Homo sapiens: one gene and its partners. The protein of the gene in region 4 purifies or fractionates together with the protein of the main gene of each other region. This does not show direct contact. Each region holds a gene or a part of one and is shown on either strand. Other genes may lie near its edges. The genes, in order: DHX36, C1orf174, RRP36, DDX55, PXK, WDR89 and SNX3.

Evidence for each region.
Region 1: the proteins of DDX55 (region 4) and DHX36 purify together in Homo sapiens (affinity purification with mass spectrometry; one large-scale study listed by BioGRID and IntAct). This does not show direct contact.
Region 2: the proteins of DDX55 (region 4) and C1orf174 purify together in Homo sapiens (co-immunoprecipitation; one large-scale study listed by IntAct). This does not show direct contact.
Region 3: the proteins of DDX55 (region 4) and RRP36 purify together in Homo sapiens (affinity purification with mass spectrometry; one large-scale study listed by BioGRID and IntAct). This does not show direct contact.
Region 5: the proteins of DDX55 (region 4) and PXK purify together in Homo sapiens (affinity purification with mass spectrometry; one large-scale study listed by BioGRID and IntAct). This does not show direct contact.
Region 6: the proteins of DDX55 (region 4) and WDR89 purify together in Homo sapiens (affinity purification with mass spectrometry; one large-scale study listed by BioGRID and IntAct). This does not show direct contact.
Region 7: the proteins of DDX55 (region 4) and SNX3 purify together in Homo sapiens (affinity purification with mass spectrometry; one large-scale study listed by BioGRID and IntAct). This does not show direct contact.

Annotation. Positions count from the first base shown.
Region 1 is NC_000003.12:154,303,988-154,307,487, forward strand, and holds part of DHX36 (ATP-dependent DNA/RNA helicase DHX36), read right to left. Parts: intron 2,309-3,500; coding exon 2,229-2,308; intron 1,182-2,228; coding exon 1,107-1,181; intron 986-1,106; coding exon 819-985; intron 1-818.
Region 2 is NC_000001.11:3,893,773-3,897,272, reverse strand, and holds part of C1orf174 (UPF0688 protein C1orf174), read left to right. Parts: exon of another isoform or gene 1-1,978; intron 1,979-3,500.
Region 3 is NC_000006.12:43,024,623-43,027,360, forward strand, and holds part of RRP36 (ribosomal RNA processing protein 36 homolog), read left to right. Parts: intron 1-362; coding exon 363-510; intron 511-640; coding exon 641-707; intron 708-1,414; coding exon 1,415-1,519; intron 1,520-2,507; exon of another isoform or gene 2,508-2,555; coding exon 2,556-2,630; intron 2,631-2,737; coding exon 2,738-2,738. UniProt on the Homo sapiens protein: Involved in the early processing steps of the pre-rRNA in the maturation pathway leading to the 18S rRNA.
Region 4 is NC_000012.12:123,615,599-123,619,098, reverse strand, and holds part of DDX55 (ATP-dependent RNA helicase DDX55), read right to left. Parts: intron 2,715-3,500; exon of another isoform or gene 2,589-2,714; coding exon 2,496-2,588; exon of another isoform or gene 2,452-2,495; intron 2,390-2,451; exon of another isoform or gene 2,259-2,389; intron 1,788-2,258; exon of another isoform or gene 1,342-1,787; coding exon 1,227-1,341; intron 503-1,226; coding exon of another isoform or gene 431-502; coding exon 262-430; intron 1-261. UniProt on the Homo sapiens protein: Probable ATP-binding RNA helicase. Has ATPase activity and is involved in the maturation of precursor large subunit rRNAs.
Region 5 is NC_000003.12:58,405,892-58,409,391, reverse strand, and holds part of PXK (PX domain-containing protein kinase-like protein), read right to left. Parts: intron 469-3,500; coding exon 391-468; intron 1-390. UniProt on the Homo sapiens protein: Binds to and modulates brain Na,K-ATPase subunits ATP1B1 and ATP1B3 and may thereby participate in the regulation of electrical excitability and synaptic transmission. May not display kinase activity.
Region 6 is NC_000014.9:63,596,872-63,600,371, forward strand, and holds the end of WDR89 (WD repeat-containing protein 89), read right to left. Parts: intron 3,103-3,500; coding exon of another isoform or gene 3,072-3,102; coding exon 1,908-3,071; 3' UTR 168-1,907; downstream 1-167.
Region 7 is NC_000006.12:108,210,722-108,213,381, reverse strand, and holds the end of SNX3 (sorting nexin-3), read left to right. Parts: intron 1-1,127; coding exon 1,128-1,233; 3' UTR 1,234-2,160; downstream 2,161-2,660. UniProt on the Homo sapiens protein: Phosphoinositide-binding protein required for multivesicular body formation. Specifically binds phosphatidylinositol 3-phosphate (PtdIns(P3)).

The DNA of each region.
Region 1 (3,500 bases), on a different chromosome or scaffold from region 4:
CTAAGTAGGTATCACTGCTCTACCCATGATGTGCACACATTTGAGCAAAGTACTCAATGTTAGTTCTAGAAGTCTCATTTAAAAATAACAATAATAACACCTACCCCAACTAATCTTACATGGTTTTCAGTATTAACTGGGATGTATTTTAAAGGACTTTTAAAAAGCTGATGACAAGAACATTTATTAAACATAAATATATTACATTGTAATTCCCTCCCTTTCCCCCTCCTTCCTTCACAAGTATAAGCAGGAAAGACAGTGAGGATTAATTTTAAAAGAATGTGCTTTTGCAGCTGGTCCAATCTAGCTTCAGCTTGGGAAACCTACTTAACTGCTCTGAGGCTGCTTTCTCATCTGTAAAAATGTGAATGATAATAGCAACTACCTCATAAAGTGTTATAAAGACTAAGGAAGACAAAGTGGCAAATATACTACCTGGAACATTGAAGGTGTTCCATAAGTGGTCACTAGCAGTATTAGCAGCAAACTGCCACCCTAACCTGTGATAAAAGCCACAGAAAAACAACAGAAAGAAGTTTATAAAATTATGCAAATCTGTGGTTTGACTTCAATGATGCCATCTTAATTGTGTGGTGGTAGCAACAAGAAGCTACCTGTCCTCACTATGAGAGATGATGCCACCATTTAAAAATAGACCCAATTGTCTAATCCATGAAACTGGAGGGTAGAATAATATTAAAATAAAATTAACAGCTAAACATTCATTTTGACTACTCTTTACCTAGTACCATATTAATTTTTTTAATTGTTTTTCTAGTACCTTTTCTAATGTAATAACTATACATTTTACTCACCAAAATATTCTGAAAACTTTTCTGCATTCAATGTTGCACTCATCAATATTACTTTCAAGTCAGATCGAAAATTGAGAAGGTCTTTAACAACAGTCATTAAAACATCTGACTGCAGATTTCTTTCATGGATTTCATCAAGTACGATATGACTAACACTGGACAAATACCTAAGGCAGAAGTGTGAAGTACAAAATTTTAAAACCATTTTTCTTTAACAACTAGTAAAATCCAATTTAATAATTACATCTTTTGATAACACTTATATTTCCTTAATTGAAACATACTCACGGGTCTGACTGGAGCCACTGAAGGATGATTCCTGTTGTACAGTATAAGATAGAACCCTGTTTCCTTGGCAACCGACTGTGAATGAAAGACATGAATTAATAAGCCTTGGTTTTCTCTTCTAATAATTAACTACCACAAAGGTTTATATCTTCAATTTTAGAAATGCTTTCAGTTTTAATGAAAATCTTCACACTTAATTTTTTACTTATAAGAACACCTACCACAATGGGGTAATGGGAAATACTTCAAGTTCATTATACATTATCTTTGTTGTCATTGATATAATGTTAATTTCTTTTAAAAGATACGACCATTCACATTCAGACAACAACTGAATTACTTATGGGGCCTAAATATTTGGTTCGTAATTGGAAAGCTCATTTGAAAAGGCAAATGTGTCAGGCATGGTGGCTCAGGCTTGTAATCCCAACACTTTGAGGCCAAGATGGGAGGGTTGCTTGAGCCCAGGAGCTCAAGACCAGCCTGGGCAACACAGCGAGATCCAGGCTCGAAAAGTAAAAAAATTAGCCAGTTGTGGTGGTGTCCGCCGGTAGGCCCAGCTACTTGAGAGGCTGAGGTGGGAGGACTGCTTGAGCACAGGAGTCTTCGGCTGCAGTGAGTTGACTGCACCACTGCACTTCAGCCAGAGCAACAGAGTGAGAACCTATCTCTAAAAAACATTAAGTAAATTAAAACATAAAAAGGCAAATGGAGTCCTAAGCTCCAGAAAAGGACCAACTATGTACTGCACAGTGGAGTTGGATAGGGGGTTAAGATATCAAAATCAATAAAAAGTCAGTCGGAAGTATATGGAGGTGGTACTGAAAGGTCTACACAATCTTTTCAGAGAGAGTAATGGTCTACTAATCTATGTCCAGGAAAAATGTTTATTTTTCTAATCATTCCAAATATAAAAGCATCATTTAAAAAAGGCAATACAAGTCTGATGTGGGGTTAAAAGATAAATTTGTGGCAGCAAGTCATCTACGCTGCAGTTACTTTAAATGGTAATTGTAATAGTAATAACCATCATAAAAATGGGGAAAATATCCTTTCTTTTGAATCTCCAGCTTCAAAGTTTCACTAAAATCTGCCTGTATATAAGAAGTGAACATTTCTTACCTCTGGAGACGAATTTGATATCCAGTACTATTACCACTGCCACAAGATTCTGCCCTTTCTGCAGCTACTCTTTCCGCAACCTTTAATTCAAATAAAACATAAAGAGAATATAATTTCCTTTAGAACAAATATCCTGAATGTCCATGAAAATCTAGGACTGTTGAAAAATTGTTCTTCAGATTTCTAAATGAGTTAAAAAAATAGATATTAAAATCTGAGGTATCTAAAACAGTGTGTGCCTCTCTTAAGAGCTGTTTATTTTTCATTTCCTCTTATAAAGTCTTTTAAGGCCAAGTTCTCTCATCACTAGTTTCAAAGTGCCTTTCTATAGCATCCTCTCATTAATTTATACTTTTCTGGTCTTTTCTAAGAGTTGTAAATCAAGATCTAAACTTGTAGAAGTTATGTGTAATTTGAAAGTAATTACATATTGATACTCTTCCCTTGTGTTTTTGTTTGTGGTAGGGACTGGTGTTGAATTTCTAGTTCTTGGTCATGTTTTGAAAGTTATGACTGCCAAAAATAAGATTTGGAAAGATGAAATGTTATAATCTAATACTGATTTGTACAACTAAAAGTAACCAACAGTTATTCTGTGACAGAACAGTGATAATAAGGTATTAGAAATAGAAAATGGCATAATTTGTAAGAAATAATACTTTACAAGTAAAACTTTCCAATAAGTATATCTAGTATACACTGACAGACCACATTAACCTGTCTACTCAAATTCCAACAGATGGTGGAAAAAAGAAGAGAAAAATTACCTACTTAGCATTTCTTCCTACTATCAGCATATACAGTAACTGCTATATATTAGTGAAAATATTTAAGTCTAGCTACAAAAGTGTGTTATGACAAAAGTGGTTTATTTTTCACCATTCTGTAATTTTATGCAATTTCCTGGAATATAGTCCCCATAAAAGGGTGAAGACTACCTGAAACTGAAACTACTAGAAGAAAACCTAGGGAAAAACTCCTTTGGACATTGGTCTAGGCAAAGAATTTATGACTAAGACCTCAAAAGCACAGGCGACAAAAATAAAAATAGACAAATGGGAATTAACTAAGAAGTTTCTACACAACAAAAGAAATAATCAACAGAGTAAACAGATAATTTCCAGAACGGAAGAAAATATGTGCAAACTATTCATCCAGCAGTGGACAAATACCCAGTATATACAAGAAACTCAAACAACAACAATAAAAGACAAATCATCCCCTTAAAAGGAGGGCAAAAGACAAGAACAGACATTTTTCAAAAGAAGATAT
Region 2 (3,500 bases), on a different chromosome or scaffold from region 4:
ATCTTGATATTGTTTATCATGGCTACCTTGGTCCTTTATATATGTATAAATCCAACATCTGGTCACTCTCACAGACAGCTTCTGTGGCCTGCTTTTATTCCAGTGTATGAGCCTACTTTTCTTTTTCTTTGAGTGCTTCATAATTTTTTGTTGGAATTATGCCTTCATAATTTTTTTGACATTTTAGATAATACATTTTAGCAATTCTGGGTACTGTCCCCAACCCTGGGGCTTGTCATTGTTAATATGCTTATTTGTTTAGCAACTGGGTAGATTGTTTTGATAAAGTATATTTCCCCTGCCACAGTGTTCAGCCTGTGATGTTGCTGGTGGGGGGTGGCACCCAGCCACTCTGGATGACAGTGGTTTTAGTGAGGTCCTTTTCCTCTTTCCCTGACCACATCCAGCTGTTGAACTTCGCTAATGCCAGGTTATTGTGCTGTTCTCAGCAACAGCCTGGGCATAAGTTGCTCTACAAACTAATCCAATCAAATTGTGGCTTCTTCGAAGGGATACTTTCTAAGGTCAGTGTTTGGTTAGTTTGTTCTGTGTCCAAGAGGCCTCCTCCCAGCCGTGTTAGTCTCTGGTTCTCTTCTGCGAACTGGTTGGCCTACAATTTGGCCTATTGCTTGATTCTCCACTGCCTCCACCCCCTTCGTCACAGCATCCACGGTACTTGAACAGCTCCCTTAGGCCGGAACTTCTCCACATTCCATGGCAGGGAATTTGGTGCCTTTGGGCAGGTGTAAGAGCTGTCTGTTTAGTTGCCTGCCTCTCATCCCAGGCAGAGCCTCTGAGCCAGGGCCTGCAGCTGAGGACAGTAATGGGCTCCTCTCTGAATAGGGGCTGGGGGAGCTAGCAGCAGCCTGAGATCCTCCAAATGTGTCTTCCCCAGCCTGGAACCACCTCATATCTAGGACGGGGTTGATGGGGCCCCAGTCTTCTCCGTTCACTGGGCGGAGCCTCTTGCAGAGGCTTAAACCGTACTGGTAGAATGGAGCCAAGGTGAAGCCTTCATTCTACAAATAGGGTCTGAGCAGAAAGGAGGGCCCCTCTTCTCAATCCTACTCACTCAGGACCTGGTCTCAGTCACAGGTGGGATGAGAGCAGAAAGGGAAGCACTGCTATCCTGCCTCTCCTGGGAAGACACCCCGCTGCCTGGGAGCTGGGGAGGTGGCCCTGTGTTCTTGGCTGCAGCAGGATGGAGCTCAAGTGCCACAGACTCTCCGTGTCCTTACCAAATGTATGTAGGTGTTCTGGAGCAAGTGTTTCTTCATTTGCTGGGTGCCCATAGGACCATTTCCAAAGGCTCTCTAAATGGCTGTTTTGGGACTGCTCATTACTCTCTGAGAAGGTCAGTGAAGCTCCTCGAGCCATCATGTTGAAGTCAGTCTCGGCCAGCCCTTTTGGAGAAACCATGTTTGTGCTTCTGACATACCAGTTATTAAACAATCTACTGGAATGAGGAGAATCTCAATGATGAGAAAGTCTTTCCTTTTTTGGACTGTGGGAGCAGTCCAAGCTGCCCAGCTGCAGAGCAGGAATCTGCAAGTGAGACTGTGACCAATTCTTGACATTTTGGAGTTGACACCTTGGAGGTGGTTAATCCATGACGAAACTGAAGCTAAGCCGATCTCATGTTTTGACTCCTGTCAATCCGGAGAGGACAGCAAATGGCCTGCTCAGGTGTCTGTTAACAGCCAGCGCTTCCAGGCCCACCAGATCCTCAGGTGTCTGTTAACAGCCAGCGCTTCCAGCCCAGCAGATCATCTGGCTTTTCTCTGCAGAAGGGGCCAAAAGGTCCACCTGATGAACCTGTTGCACGCGAAAAGTTCAGAACCACTGCTGCCAAGATGCTGACAGAAGCCTTGAGAAGCACCTGCTGCGGGAAAAGACGTGCAGGCGTAGAACACAGAGCGGGTGGCAGCTTCTTCAGTTCAATCCCCACCTCAGGCAGTTGTTGGGGGTCATATCTAGGGTGAGCTGTGGTGATGGAATAGAGATTTGGAAGCCAGGCATCACTCGTATAACCTCATAAGCTCCTTACCCAAGTTGTCCTCATCTGAAATGGGTGTGCCACTCCTTTAAAGCTGTTCAGGCACCGAGCTGGGCTCCCCACACAGCATACTCCAGCACAGAGCAGCAAAGCGCCCGGAGGAGGGCTCACAGCAGGGAGGAGAGGTGGGGCAGTGGCTTTCTAGGTCAGAGATGTCTTTTCCCTACGAGGCACGTGATGGCGTTTTAGGGAGATGGGCTTGTTTAAGACCCAGTGGGAGGATTTTGATGAGAGATGTTTATGGCAACTCTTAGCAAGTTCTGTAACCTCTGTTGCCTCAGTCCCCTTGGTGTAACTGTGACCATGACGTCTGCCGGGGCTCTCAGCAAAGCCCTGCCCTTGTGAGAGGACGGAGGCGCAGCCCCCGGTGTGCTGTGGTAGCAGGCACTTCACCCAGCCTGTGGGCAACTGGCGTGTCCTGTGTACAGCAGGCGGGCGTCCTGGCCTCCGGTGGGCTGCTGCCTGCTCTTCTCCCTCCTGTTTCAGACACACACTCTGACTGCCACAGTATCACAGGACCTTGGAGCTGCCACCCCACAGGGTTTCTGGAGCTGTCTTGGGCTACGGGGTGCATGGCTGAGACAGATTATTTCTTTTTTTTTTTTTTTTTGAGACGGAGTCTTGCTCTGTCACCCAGGCTGGAGTGCGGTGGCGCAATCTCGGCTCACTGCAAGCTCCGCCTCCTGGGTTCACGCCATTCTCCTGCCTCAGCCTCCCAAGTAGCTGGGACTACAGGCGCCCACCACCACGCCCGGCTAATTTTTTGTATTTTTAGTAGAGACGGGGTTTCACTGTGTTAGCCGGGATGGTCTCGATCTCCTGACCTTGTGATCCACCTGCCTCAGCCTCCCAAAGTGCTGGGATTACAGCCGTGAGCCACCGCGCCCAGCCGAGACAGATTATTTCTGTGTTTTATTTTTTTGTTTTTTTCCTTTTTTTATTTCTCTTATCTGCTGTTGGGCAGGGCACTCTTCATCCGTCCCCTTCTGGGTTCCAGTTCTAGGGCCTGTTGGCAGCAGCTCTTGGGCCTTTCCCGGCCATGTCAACCTGCATTGCTCCTGTTTGTTGCTTCTACTACTCACACTCATTCCTTTCGAGTTTTCTAAGTGCAGTGTGGTATTGTGGACTGGATTCTGGAACAGAAAAACGGTTCATGGAGAAACCGATAAAATACAAATAAAATCTATAGTTTAGTGAAGAGTACCGTAATGTCACTAATTTCTTAATGTTGACAATGTCCTGTAGTTGTTTAACATTAGTGGAAGCTGAGTGAAGGCTACATGGCAACTCCCTGTACTATTTTATTATTATTATTTTTTCAGAGACACTGTCTCACTCTGTCACCCAGGTGGAGTGCAGTGGTGCAGTCATAGCTCACTACAGCCTCAGACTCCTGGGATCAAGTGATCCTCTCACCTCAGCCTCCCACATAGCTGGGACTACA
Region 3 (2,738 bases), on a different chromosome or scaffold from region 4:
CTGAGCATGTGGACCAGGACACTGGCAATGGTAACTGAGCAAGGGAGGCAGATGCCCTTCTGGGGAAACCTGTGAATGAGTAAAAGAGAGAGTAAAAGAATGAGTAAAAGAGAAAAAGAAGGGACTATGGTTTGGTGCACCTTTGACCTTACATATACACCTTCCTTAGCAAGATGAGGCCCCAGGTTGCTGAAATAGTTGGAGAGTTTAACACTATCACAGCCTCTGCTGCCTAGGACTTCTAATAATGATTGGTCTGATGGGGTATTAGGATTAGCTAGCTAAGGAATGGGGATGGGAAGATGTCTTTTCTGCAGTGGGACATGCTGAGCTGAGTTGTATGTCCCTCCCCACTTCCACAGGCACATCTAACATGTCATTTGAGGAGCTGTTGGAATTGCAGAGCCAAGTGGGGACTAAGACGTACAAACAATTGGTAGCTGGAAATAGTCCTAAGAAACAAGCTTCTAGACCACCTATCCAAAATGCATGTGTTGCAGATAAGCACAGGTAAGCAAGGCTTGCCCTAGAAGTTGGAAGATAACTGGGACCTTGAATAGGTATGTTGTCTTGGGTGACAGGTGGGAAGCCTTTGACCAACACTGGAGTCCTCTTGACTTGGCTTTTAATTTCTCCATAGGCCTCTGGAAATGTCAGCCAAGATCCGAGTACCATTTTTACGTCAGGTTGTTCCCATTAGTAAAAAGGTAAGGAAGAAGGCCAGGCACTGTGGCTCACGCCTGTAATCCCAGCACTTTGGGAGCCCGAGGTGGGCGATCACCTGAGATCAGGAGTTCCAAGACCAGCATGGCCAACATGGTGAAACCCTGTCTCTACTAAAAATACAAAAATTAGCTGGGCATGGTGGTGTGTGCCTGTAGTCCCAGCTGCTTGGAAAACTGAGGCACAAGAATCGCTTGAACCTGGGAGGTGAAGGTTGCAGTGAGCCAGGATCATGCCACTGCCCTACAGCCTGTGGGACAGAGTAAGACTCTGTCTCAAAAAAAAAAAAAAAAAAAAAAATAGAGGCCGGGCGCAGTGGCTCATGTCTGTAATCCCAGCACTTTGGAAGGCCAAGGTGGGCGAATCACGAGGTCAGGAGATTGAGACCATCCTAGCTAACACAGTGAAACCCCGTCTCTACTAAAAATACAAAAAAAAATAGCCGGGCGTGGTGGCGGGTGCCTGTAGTCCTAGCTACTCAGGAGGCTGAGGCAGGAGAATGGTGTGAACTTGGGAGGCACAGCTTGCAGTGAGCCGAGATTGCACCACTGCACTCCAGCCTGGGCGACAGAGCGAGACTGTGTCTCAAAAAGCAAAAAAAAAGAAAGATGAGGAAGAGACAGGAAGCACTTTTTCTCAGTGAAAGGAGATTGAACAGTTGTGTTTTATATTCTCTCTCTTCTCTCCAAAGGTAGCCCGGGACCCTCGCTTTGATGATCTGTCAGGGGAATATAATCCTGAGGTGTTTGACAAAACATACCAATTCTTGAATGACATCCGAGCGAAAGAGAAAGAGGTATACAGCTTGAGACTGGTTTATGGGGAATTTTGTGGGGTGGAAAATGAGGGCACAGGTTAGAGAGTTGGGCAGGGGGAGTGGGAAGTATAGTGGTGGGCAGATTTAACTCTCTCCAATTCAGTTCATATTCAAATCCTGGCTCATCAGTTTACTAGCTGTGTGATTATTGGCATGTTACTTAATCTCTCTATGCTTTAGTTTTCTAATCATAAAAAAATAAAATAATAATTACTGTCTTGGAGGCCGGGTGTGGTGGCTCACGCCTGTAAGTAATCCCAGCACTTGGGGAGACTGAGGTGAGCACATCATTTGAGGCCAGCAGTTCCAAGACCAGCCTGGCCAACATGGTGAAACCCCATCTCTACTAAAAATAGAAAAATTAGCCAAGTGTGGTGTTGCATGCCTATAGTCCCAGCTACTCAAGAGGCTGAGGCATGGGAATTGCTGGTGCCCTGGAGACAAAGGTTGCAGTGAGACAAGATCGTGTCACTGCACTCCAACCTGGGCAGCAGGGCAAGACTGTCTCCAAACAAACAGTTACTGTCTTGGTGTTATCAAGTTAATATATGTGAACTTCTGGCCGGGTGCGGTGGCTCATGCCTGTTATCCCACCACTTTGGGAGGCCGAGGCAGGTGGATCACGAGGTCAGGAGATTGGGACCATCCTGGCCAACATGGTGAAATTAGTCTCTACTAAAATACAAAAGGAGGAGATCAAGATCATCCTGGCCAACATGGTGAAATTTAGTCTCTACTAAAATAAAAAAAAAAATTAGCCGGGCGTGGTGGCACGTGCCTGTAGTCCCAGCTACTTGGGAGGCTGAGGCAGGGGAATTGCTTGAACCCAGGAGGCGGAGGTTGCAGTGAGCCAAGATCACACCACTGCACTCAAGCCTGTGACAGAGCAAGACTGCATCTCAAAAAAAAATGTGTGTGTGTGTATGTGTGTGAACTTCTTAGGATAATGCTTTACATAAAATTTCAGCTAACATTTGCAGAATGCTAACCATGATACTCATTTTCCAATGTGGAGCTTGTGAAAAAACAGTTGAAGAAGCACCTTTCAGGAGAGGAGCATGAGAAACTGCAGCAACTGCTTCAGCGAATGGTGAGTGGGTAATAATTGTGGTGGGTAATGAAAGCAATTAAAGGTGGGAGATATTCACAGATCTGAACAGATCCCTCCCGTTCACCCATCTCATCTTTGCTCCTCAGG
Region 4 (3,500 bases):
CCTGGGAGGCAGAGCTTACAGTGAGCCGAGATCGCGCCACTGCGCTCCAGGCTGGGTGACAAAGCGCGACTCTGTCTCAAAAATTAAAAAAATTACATTTTTACAAAGTTAAAAGGAATACTCAGCAGCCAGTGGCCAGTTTATTCTGTGTCTACTCAAAACCTGGGAACACTTCCTTTTATGAGACAAAGCAATCTCATACTTGTAAGACCACCACATAGTTAAGATGGAGACATTATCACATGAAGAAGTCCAACTTACCCTTTAATCTGAAAATCAGGTTGCATTCATGCTTTGCATAAGCTTGGACATATGACACAAAAGCTTTCATGCCCTTTTCAAACACAGCTCTGTCAGCCAGGGCCATGGACTTGAGTTTTGGCAGAAGGTCCGCTGTGTTTCTCTGGGGCTTCATCTCCTGCAGGGGGCACTACACACACACACATACCACATTCTCACCTTCCCTGGCTGGCATCATATCCCCAGGGCTCCCCATCACAACCAAGAAAAACAAAAGCGAAACAATTCCTTTTCAACTGTTGAGGTCTGAAGCCCAACTCCAACCCAAATATTTCACATGCTCTGTAAAGTATGTTAAATTTTTAAAAGAAAATTTAAAAATCAGATTTCACATGACAATCCTAATCTGGTAGCAAAGTATGGCAACACTGGGTCTCTATTCACAAGAAGTAACCCTTGCCTGGGTCCCAGCAGGGCATGCTACCACACAGGAGACTTGGTCACTCCATGACCGAGGTGCCTCCACAGCCTTAAAGCCCACCAGGGTGGCCGGGCACGGTGGCTCACGCCTGTCATCCCAGCACTTTGGGAGGCCGAGGTGGGCGGATCACCTGAGGTCGGGAGTTCAAGACCAGCCTGACCAACATGGAGAAACCCCATCTCTACTAAAAATACAAAATTAGCTGGGGTGGCGCATGCCTGTAATCCCAGCTACTTGGGAGGCTGAGGCAGGAGAATCCATTGAACCCGGGAGGTGGAGGTTGCGGTGAACCGAGATAGTGCCATTGCACTCCAGCCTGGGCAACAAGAGTGAAACTCCGTCTCAAAAAAAAAAAAAAAAAACCCCACCAGGGCCCCCCACTGCCACCACCAGCCCAGCCCCAGTGAGTTTGCAATTCGTAATTTCAATTGCTGACCACATGCTGGAGAACTTTTCCAGCTACCCCGTCACTAGGCATTCTATCTGAAAACGGACGGCAGCTTACTTTTTGGTTAATTGCAAGGAAATTGATGTATGACTCTTCCATGGGCAGGAGGAACACCAGAGCGCTGCCCCCGTGGCCAATGCGAGCTGTGCGACCGCAGCGATGCACGAAGGCACTGTGAGAACACAGGGTGGAAATGGGTACCCAGGTGATGACAGCTGAACAGAGCTCAGGCTCCAGCCACATGGCTGCTGCAGCTAAAACGCTCTGGGGAGCCTCTAGCCTCCACAGCTCAGTGTGGACTCGGCCACTTACTAGTGTGAGAAATAGAACTGGCAATTAAACCAACACTGCAAACAGATACGATTCTGTAAGAAACATTTAATGTGAACTCTTAAGTAAAACTTGTATCTTTCTCTCTGATCATACAGGTGGGACATAGTCCCCAGTGGAAAATCTGGGAAACAATGAAAAATACAAAGAATAAAATGAAAATGACCAATAACCTCAGGAGTAATCATCAACACTTGGGGGTTTATAGGCATTTTCCTATGCGTGGAAGCATGTATTAGGAATATATGCTGACTTTGAAGAAAGTAATTGTAATTTTCACATGTGGTGGTATGTATTGCTTTTTTCATTTAGACATTCTATTGTGTGTTTCTGCAAGAACTGATAATATTTGAAAGTACTTTTAATTGCTACCAATACAGTATCACGATTTCACCATGAATGGGTTATTCATCCATTTGCCTATTTTTGCTACTTAAAACAACGGGTTTTTGTTTTGAGACAGAGTCTCACACTGTTGCCCAGGCTGGAGTGAAGTGGCACAATCCATTGCCACCTCTGCCTCCTGCGCTCAAGCGATTCTCCTGCCTCAGCCTCTCAAGTAGCTGGGACTACAGGAACACACGCCTGGCTAATCTGTATATATATTTTTTGTAGAGACAGGGTTTTGTCCTGTTGCCCAAGCTGGTGAATTCCTGGGCTCAAACGATTCACCTGCCTCGGCCTCCCCAAAGTGCTGGAATTACAGGCGTGAGCCACCGCGCCCAGCCTCAAATAATGTTGTTGTTTTTTGTTTTCTCTCATTGTCTGAAATTTCTATAACCTTGCTCTACATGGAGCACGGCAAGGCCTCAAACCATTTCAAAACTGTTCTGGCAAGCCCTGTAGGAATCCACGGGGTCACTGCAGACCCAAGCACGCTGGAGGCTTGCTATAAAATGTTTCAGTGAACATCATTATCTGTTTATCTTCTTCGGGATTCCTCCTTTATTAGGCTAAATTCCTCAACAGAGAGTGGGTGGCAGCCTCGTACCATACCTTGCATTGCTGGGAGGGTCATACTGCAAAACCCAGTTGACTTCAGGAATATCAATTCCCCGGGCCATCACATCAGTGCACACTAAAATCCCACTAGGAAATGAGAAAAAAGCATTCTGAGTAAGGAGGCCACCATCTTCATCACCATCAAACAGCCTACTGATCTCGATGACAGTGACACACAGGTGCTGGAGCTTCTCACAGAAGCAAATGTTTAAGGTAATATTTTGATTTTTTCTTCTTTCTACAAATCTCTGGGACTTCATAAATTCCAATAAAAATTGGAGGGAGGTGAGAGACAGCAAAGGGATTTTAAAAATTACAGCACTGCCATTTGAAAACCAAAACTGTATGGGTCTAATCCTTTGTAGCCATCTGAAAAACAACGGACAATTCACTCCATAACTGAGGCCTAGCAGTCAGGTATATCACTTTGTCCAAAAGAAGACTTTTAATATAGTCAGATGTTCAATGATTAAGAAAAACAGAAAACTATTATTTGTCAGCACAAGCAGATACAAGTTATGGTCATTGGTAGACACAAGTTGCCTGCTGTATAGTCACAAGCCTAATAAGCCACAGACAGTTTTTTGTTTTTTTGTTTCTTTGTTTGTTTGTTTTTGAGATGGAGTCTCACTCTGTCACCCAGGCTGGAGTGCACTGGCGCAGTCTCGGCTCACTGCAAGCTCCGCCTCCTGGGTTCACACCATTCTCCTGCCTCAGCCTCTGGAGTAGCTGGGACTACAGGCGCCAGCCACCATGCCCGACTAATTTTTTGTTTTTAGTAGAGACAGGGTTTCACCACGTTAGCCAGGATGGTCTTGATCTCCTGACCTCGTGATCCACCCGCCTCGGCCTCCCAAAGTGCTGGGATTACAGGCGTGAGCCACCGTGTCCGGCCTTAAGCCACAGACAGTTTCTACCCAGACAGGACAAATGGATTTGCTCCTTGCTGCTTGACAGTCATCACAACCTTTCCCTGGACCGGGCACAGGGCAATCTGGG
Region 5 (3,500 bases), on a different chromosome or scaffold from region 4:
CGGGTCTGGATGCCAGGTAGAGGAGTATGCCAAAGGAAGAGGTCCTTTCTCATGCCCCTAATGCCTTCCTGCCTTTCCCTCTTTTACAGAAGAAGAATGTGGTGAGACAGCATGGACCATGCATGCCCGCAACTATCACCGGCCGGCATGCTCTGATCAGAAACCCAGACTGCCCTTCCTGGACATGTTTGTTTCCCACATAGACTAGGCAGGACTGAGGGCAGGACTGTCAAGTATTCAGCTCTGCAGGGAAGCATTTAGCCTAAAGGCTGGCTGAGAGTAAGTATGCTTAAAATATTTGCAGAGGGAACAGTCAAAGGTCAATCACTATAAAAACCACGGCAGAGGATGGGGACACTAAAAGGCAAAGAGGAACCGTTATCAATTTACCTGTTTCTGTTCCTCAATTAGTCTCTTCTCTATACATTCTTTGGCAATTCTCAATGCCTCTTTTAACTTTGTAGGGATCTGAAAGGAGAGAAAAGTACATCATCTATTGAAAAAGGTGGCTGGAGATACTTCCAAGTCCTGGAGTAAATGAAGGAGCAGGTGGTTATCAAGAGTCATTTCGGCCGGGCGCGGTGGCTCATGCCTGTAATCCCAGGACTTTGAGAGGCCAAGGCGGGCGGATCACGCGGTCAGGAGATGGAGACCATCCTGGCTAACACGGTGAAATCCCATCTCTACTAAAAATACAAAAAATTAGCCGGGCGTGGTGGTGGGCGCCTGTAGTCCCAGCTACTCAGGAGGCTGAGGCAGGAGAATGGCGTGAACCCGGGAGGCGGAGCTTGCAGAGAGCCGAGATCACGCCACTGCACTCCAGCCTGGGTGACAGAGCGAGACTCCATCTCAAAAAAAAAAAAAAAGAGTCATTTGGAATAAAATCAGTTAAAGCTGTCCATTCAAATCCTACCCCAGCCACTTTTGGTATCCCTAACACACTCACTTCTCTAGCATTTTTTAGCAATGAACACATAAAACTAAAACATAAATAAACATGATATGTTTCAAGTAATGCAAGTAATCCTCAAGGGCTGTAAATTGCCAAAACAATCTGAAAAAGAAAAATAAAGTTGAAGGCCTCACATTTCCTGATTTTGAAACCTATTACATAGCTACAGTAATTAAAACAGTGTGGTACTGACATGCAGGCAGATACACAGACCAATGGAAAAGAAGAAGAGAGAGCCCAGAAATAAATGCTTGTGGATATGGTCAAATAATCTTTGACAAGGGTTCCAAGAACATACAATGGGGGAAAGGACAGTGTATTCAATAACAGTGCTGGGAAAATTGGATATCCACATACAAAAGAGTGAAGTTGGACCCTTACCTTACACCATAAACAAAAATTAACTCAAAATGGATTCAAAACCTAAACATAAGACCTAAAACTATAAAACTCCTAAAAGAAAAGACACAGGGGAAAAGCTTCTTGACACTGGATTTGGCAGTGATTTCTTGGATATGACACCAAAAGCACAGGCAATAAAAGAAAAAAAATTAAACTTCATCAAAATTTAAAACTTTGGTGCAGCCGGGCAAGGTGGCTCACGCCTGTAATCCCAATACTTTGGGAGGCTGAGGTGGGTGGATCACTTGAGGTCAGAAGTTCAAGACCAGCCTGGCCAACATGGCAAAACCCCGTCTCTACTAAAGATACAAAAATTAGCCAGGTGTGGTGGTGCACGCCTGTAATCTACTTGGGAGGCTGAGGCAGGAAGATCACTTGAACCTGGGAGGGCGGAGGTTGCAGTGAGCTGAGATTGTGCTGCTGCACTCCAGCCTAAGCAACAGAACGAGCCCCTGTCTCCAAAAGAAAAAAAGAAAAATAAATAAATAAATAAATAAATAAAACATTGGTGCAACAAAGAAAAACGGAGTAAAAGACAACTCAAGAAATGGGACACAATATTTGCAAATCATAGGTCTGATAAGGGGTTAATATCCAGAATATATAAAGGAACTCCAACAACTCAACAACAAAATATAAGTAACCCAATTAAAAAGAGGCAAAAGACATAGACATTTCTCTAAAGAAAATATACAAATGGCCAAAAAACATATGAAAAGACACTCAATGTCTTTAGTCATTAGAGAAATGTAAATCAAAACCACAATGAGACATCACCTCACAGCCATTAGGATAGCCACTATTAAAATAATAAAATAAATGTTGGTGAGAATGTGGAGAAACTGAAGCCCTTGTACACTGCTGGTGGAAATGTAGAGTAGTACAGCTGCTATGGAAAACAGTATGGAGGTGACTCAAAAAACTACAAAATGGAACTACCATATGAGGAATTCCACTTCTGGGTATACATCCAAAAGAATCAAAAGCAGGATCTCAAAAAGATATTTGCACACCCATGTTCACTGCAGCATTATTCATGACAGACAAGAGGTAAAAGCAGCCTAAATGTTCATCAACAGATGAATGGATAAAAAAAGTGTGGCATATACATACAATGGAATATTACTCAACCTTAAAAATAGAAGGAAATCTTGTTACATGTTACAATATAGATGAACCTTGAGGACATTATGCTAAGTGAAATAAATGATCCACAAAAGGACAAATACTTATATAAGGTTTCTAGAGTAGTCAAGATCACAGAAACAAAGTAGAATAGTGATTGCCCGGAGCTGTGGGGAGGGAGAAATGGGGAGTCATTATTCTATGGGTATAGAGTTTCAGGTTGTAAGCTCTAGAGACCTGTTATACAATAATGTGAAGATAGTTAACACCACTGAACTGTACACTTAAAAATGGTTCAGAGAGTAAATTTTATATTGTATTTTTTATCACAATTAAAAATTTAAAAATTAGGTCAGGCACAGTGGCTCACACCTGTAATCCCAGCACTTTGGGAGGCCACTTGGGGCCAAGAGTTCAAGACTAGCCTGGGCAACAGTAAGACTCTGTCTCTACAAAAAAATTAAAAAATTAGCAGGGTGTGGTGGTACGCGCCTGTTGTCCCAGCTACTCAACAGGCTGAGGCAGGAGGATTACCTGAGCTCAGGAGTTTGAGGCTGCACTGAGCCCCGTCATTGCACCACTGCACTCCAGCCTGGCAACAAAAAATCGCCTACTTCAAAAAAAAAAAAATTAAAATTAAAAATTAAAAAAATTGGCCGGGTGCAGTGGCTCACACCTGTAATCCCAGCACTTTGGGAGGCCGAGGTGAGTGGTTCACCTGAGGTCGAGACCAGCCTGACCAACATAATGAAACCCCATCTCTACTAAAAATACAAAAATTAGCCAGGCGTGGTGGCGCATGCTTGTAATCCCAGCTGCTCAGGAGGCTGAAGCAGAATTGCTTGAACCCAGGAGGCGGAGGTTGCAGTGAGCCGAGATCATGCCATTGTACTCCAGCCTGGGTGACAAGAGCGAGACTCCGTCTCAAAAGAAAAAAAAATATTTAAAAAATTATATAAAGCTTATTGGAACATACATAAATTCAACCAGTTATTATAACTTCAGAGATATCTTCTTTGTG
Region 6 (3,500 bases), on a different chromosome or scaffold from region 4:
GATTTTCTATTTACTCTGAAACTTCACAGTGCTATGCCTTGATGTGGATCTTTTTCATTCATTACACTTGACACTCTGCTGTGCCTTTCAATCTAAAGATTGAAGTTCTGGAATAGCCACTATATTAGTCCATTTTCACACTCTATAAATAACTGCCCAAGACTGGGTAATTTATAAAGGAAAGTGTTTAATTGACTGAAGAGTTCAGCATGGCCAGGGAGGCCTCAAGAAACTTACAATCATGGGGGAACGCAAAGGGGAAGCAAAGCACCTTCTTCACAAGGCTTCAGGAGAAAGAGTGAGGAGTTAAAGGGGCAGAGCCCTTTATAAAACCATCAGATCTTGTGAGAACTCACCCACTATCAGGAGAACATCGTAGGGGAAACCACCCCCATGATCCAATCACCTCCCACCAGGTCTCTCCCTAGACACATGGGGATTATGGGGATTACAATTCGAGATGAAATTTGGGTGAGGACACAGACAAACCATACCAGCCATTTATGTTATTTCTAATAACCCACTGCCCCCATTTCTTTTTTAACTTTTTTCACTTTCTAAAACTGTTAGTCTGGTTTTGACCCCTGTATTTATCTTCTGTGGCTTTCATCTTTTCTCTTTGTCTCTTTCAGTTCTACTTTCAGGAATATTTTCTCACCTACATCTTCCAACACTATTAATTACTTTTGAATTTTAAATATTTTTAATTTTAAAAAGCCCTATTGTTTTAATAGTTTCACTTCCAATTGTTTTATGAATGCGATTTCTCCAGATATCTTTCAAACTAATTTTTTTATTCACTAGATAGCACTGTCTTATATTTTAAAGATTCTGAAAAACACAATTTTTAACGCTTATGTAGTCCGCCATCAAAACATCAATGTACTGAAGATTTTAAGCAGCATGAGGCACCATCACGTTTTTGTTTCTTCCCCCTCATTTCCCCGCCCCTACCAGATCTGTTTTTGATGTTTAGCCTAGAAGTAGCAAGAAGGATGAACTGAAGCAGATTAGAGATCGAGCTGGTAATCCAGATGAGAAATAATGAAAGTCTTCTCTAGGGTAATAGTGGTGAGGTAAAGGCAAAAGGATAGCTGACAGACGTTAGGAGGTGAAATGGCACAGGACTTGGTGAAAAACTGGTTAGGAGAAGAGGAAAGAGAAAAGCCCAGGTTATCCTCAGATTTATGGTTTGGACAACAGGAAGAATAGCAATTTCTCCAAGTCGAGTCCTATTATAAATATTTTCATTTTTGTATTTCACTTTGAGTCTCAATTTACCAAGATAACTTCCTTTCAATCAGCAAAACACCTGTTTACTACTTACTAACAATATTAAAGATGCAAATATTTACGAAACATATTTTTCTCACTTTACATAGATGCCTATCATTTCATTTGTAAAAAAGGTTAATTCTATTTACTCATTAAAATACTTACATTTAAATACTCCAGCATAATACATTAGGTGTATTAAACATATAGATGCTCCTCAGATGAAGAATATAGTCTAATCTGGTTTTATACACAATAAAGACAATTTAAAATGTAAAAAACTGGGCTTAAAAAATGCAGCCAACCACCTGTTTTATTAAGTTTTACCAAGTATTTCCTTCTAAAAAGTCCTTATCGGAGCTATTTCTTTAAAGCCAACATTTACTACATTAACAGATGGGTTCTTTAAATAAGAAATTTTACTTTCAACTCACTGATTTTATACTTAGAGGCTTTAAAATTTTTTAGAATATGTGAAGACCGGAATTAAACCATTCTCACCATATTTTTCCAGGACTGTTTGCTAACTGGCTTGTTTTTACATAAAGCTTTAAACATGTCTACCATGGGTAGTAAACAAGAAGGACTATTTGAAACTATAAAACCTACCAAACAAAGTGCCAAATGCATTATCACTGCTTTTTCCTTCTTTTATAAGAATCATTACTATGAACTCGTACTCGTTGGTGCACAGAGGATGCTATTTTCATACTCTCTTTCTTTGTAAAGGTCTTCTCTATAGCTCCAGGTTTCCAAAGTAACAACTGTGCATCTTCTCCTCCAGTCAACAAAGAATCATCTTGCACATTCCAACAGAAAGAACGGACTGTAGCAGCATGCCCTCCCTGAAGGCTAGTCACATGGGTCAGTCCTGACATGCTGCAGTTCATCAAATGAATCCTTCCTTTGTTTGTTCCTCCAATAACATGCAATGTGTCTGTCTTTTCATGATATAGGCCACCAATCAAATAGTCCAAAGCATCTTCTTTCATGTTAACTACTTCTCTGACATCCTGGATGTTCAAACGTGTAACTGGTTCATCAGTGTCCAGATGATTAAGATCCCACCAATAAAATCCTTCATCATGTGTCATGCAGTAAATCTGTTTATAACCTTTCCCAGACCAACCAATACAGCTTACTGATGAAATTGAGTTACAGGTTGTAACCAGTGCATCCTCCTCATTATCAATATTAATATCAAATACATTTACCAGGCCATCAGATGAACCTGAGACTACCATGTTGGGATTGCTGGGATGGAAACGTACTTGAGTGACATCATCACTATGTGTCTCTGAATATGCACCAAGTGAGTCTTTAGTTGTAGATAAATTCTGAGAATTCATCCTTGCATCCCAAAACACCAACAATGCATCATCATCAACTTTTTCTGTACCAGCACAAATAATATGATCATTACAATTAATATCAAAACTGATAAAAATATTGGAAGGGTAACCCTTGAAGAGCTGAACAGGTTTTTCTCTGGCTACTCGAGCATCCCAGCATTTCACAGTGCCATCAGTACATGCTGAATATACACTGTCACAGGAATTTGCAAATCTGACTCCATTAAGAAGTCCAGGATATCCACTAAATTCTCGTAGTACATTTAACCTTTCTTTATCATATATTCTGATTGATCCATTAGAACATAAAACAGCAACCAAGTTTTCCTTTCCTGCTTGGACAGTCTTTGATGTGTCTATACCAAGAAGGTAAGTGGGCTCTTTGGTTCCTAAGGAACATTTAACAATGTGCAGATTAGCAAATTGTTCCTCAATCTTTTCCATGTCAACAGCAGCATCCAAGGGTAGTAAAACTCTGTAAAAAATAATAATAATAAAAATAAAAATTAATGCTTAACAAGGGAGACACATAAAAAAATTTAACTTGAAGTTTCTCTAAAATTGCAATTAAATCAAGAACATTTTCCTCTGAGGGCTGGCATGAATCAATCAATCAACAGAAATGTATTCTAATACTATAATCATTTCCTTCCTATGATGTAACTAAAACTCAGTTGCCTTCTAATTCAATCACTCTTTAATACTGAATTCACTACCAGGAGTGGTGGCTCACACCTGTAATCTCAGCACTTTGGGAGGCTGAGGTAGGAGGACTGCTTGAGGCCAGGCATTAGAGACCAGCCTGAGCAACATGGGGAGACCCCCCCGCCGTCTCTTCAAAAAATAAATTAGCAGGGCATGGTGGCCTATGCC
Region 7 (2,660 bases), on a different chromosome or scaffold from region 4:
CCACGCCTGGCCTATATTAGATATTTTTAAATTCTGAAATAATAGTCCGGTTGCCCAGTGTGGTTTTAAGCAGGCAAAAACAAACAAAATACCTGGATATTTGTGCCTGTTTTTTTAGTATTTTGGGCTTTTATTGAACTTCATTGTATTTCTAACTTCAATCCTGTATCTTCTCCTCTTTAAAATAGACTCTGGCCTGGTACAGTGGATCATGTCTGTAATCCCAATATTTTGGGAGGCCGAGGTGGGCAGATCACTTGAGGTCAGGAGTTCCAAGGCCAGCCTGGCCAACATGGCGAAACCCTGTCTCTACTAAAAATACAAAAATTAGTGGGGCGTGGTGGTGTTTACCTGTAGTCCCAGCTACTCAGGAGGCTGTGGCAGGAGAATCGCTTGAACCTGGGAGACAGAGGTTGCAGTGAGCCAAGATCACACCACTGCACTCTAGCCTGGGTGATAGAGCAACACTTTTGTCTCAAAAAAAAAAAAAAAAAAAAAAGATTCTTAGGATCAATTGACATGCTTCACTTTTAACATTAAAATTAATTTAAGTTTCTTATGAATACACCAGCTATGATGTAAAGCTAATTGGGTACATGTGCCACAAGCAGTGAAAAATTTGTGATTAATGTTTTCTTAATTAGAGTTGTGAACCAAACAAAAGAACATATACCATTAGTTGATAGTGCATAGCTTTATGGACAGTCCAGAATAATACTTATTGGTAAACTGTACATGATTCTGAGCCGGGCGCAGTGGCTCACGCCTGTAATCCCAGCACTTTGGGAGGCTGAGGTGAGCAGATCACTTGAGGTCAGGGATTTGAGACTAGCCTGGCCAACATGGTGAAACCCCGTCTCTAGTAAAAATATAAAAATTAGCTGGGCATGATGGCACACGCCTGTAGTCCCAGCTACTCAGGGGGCTGAGGCACGAAATCACTTGAACCCAGGAGACGGAGGTTGCCATGAGCCAAGATCAGCCACTGCACTCCAGCCTGTGCAACAGAGCAAGACTCCATCTCAAAAAAAAAAAAATTATACATGCTTCTCAACTTTAAAATATGTGTTTTGAACTCCCCCACCTTGTATAAAATATTGGACTAAATTTATATTTTTTATTCTCAGGGTCGCTGGTCATCCTCTGGCACAGAACGAACGTTGTCTTCACATGTTTTTACAAGATGAAATAATAGATAAAAGCTATACTCCATCTAAAATAAGACATGCCTGAAATTTGGCAAGAAGGGGCAAAAACGTGACTATTAATGATTGATAAGCACCAGTGAAGAAGTTCTAACTTTTAGCATGCTGCACAGAAACTGGTATAACATGCCTTCAGTATACTAACACTCATATGCTCAGTTTTGTTTTGTTTTGGCAGTTGACAAGAAGTTAATTTGCTTTAGTAAAAATCCCTCATTCCAGCCTTTCTATATAAATAGCTCTTTCTTGCTGTTTTAATGTGGTGCACACTATAGCCTCACAAACCTGTTATTCCAGTGTAATCTGCAGTGTCGTAACTAAAGTTACTGGCTTGGTCTTATTTGCACAGTTTTTGCGTCTTGTTTGCTTCTTGCATCTGATTAACTAGAATATTTCTCTTTCCCCCTTTTAATTTGTGATGTCACTTGACCCCATTTATGTGTAGGAGCACTACACCATTGGTTTCCAATACTGCACACATAAGATACATACTTGTGTGCAGAAAGTATCTTCCTCCAGGCTTGTAATACCCTTCACATGGAAGATTAATGAGGGAAATCTTTATATTCTGTATAAAAACAAAAGCAAATTTATATACTAAAATCATTTGTCTAAAAATTTAAGTTGTTTTCAAATAAAAATTAAAATGCATTTCTGATATGCACTGATTGTGTTGCCTCCAGCTTTTTTTGCTCTCTATGAGTGACTACTTAAGTCACTTGTTGAGAGGGATTATTTACTAATTATATACTTCTCATTCCTGTAACTCCATTCCCTTTAAACAGTGGTGATATCAAATATACTTCCATCCATTGAATGGGGTATTTTTAACAACAACAAAAGTGATATACTAAAAAATGTATTGCTTAAGGCTTATTGAATCATTTTGAAGCACTTTGTGTATTTGAAAACTGCTTTATAATCTCATTTATTAAAAGGACTTTCAAAGATAAAATACCATTTCTCCTATTTTTCAGAAGTTTTTTCCTAGTCAACTGAGTGACTTGTTTAAACAAACTTAGCAAGGGTGTAATAACTCTTCTTAGTCAGCAGGTTTGTGCTTTCTCTTTAATTTGGTTTGGGATAGTAGCACACTTTATCCTCTTTAAGAGAAGGGCACAGTCTTCTAGCCTGACCTGCAAAAATGATAAGATACCAGAAAACACATGACTTCTTGCTGCCTAACTTGTGTTGTGTTCAGACCTTTCAGCCAGAATGTGGTCTCTAGTTTGTACAACTTGCGGTGGTTTGGGGACCCATTGTGACTTGGAGTTAAATCCCAAAGTAAAGAAATTTTGTCCTCCTACAGCAGATGCGTCTCCTCTGAAGATGGATCAGTCCATTTAAAAGGAAACAAGCTTGGGTCTTGGCCAAACTAGGATGTCCACCAAGCACATAGAAGTCATAGGAAGAAGTCAGAGTTGCCCCATAAGGCCTTTTGTTGCTCAAACAGTA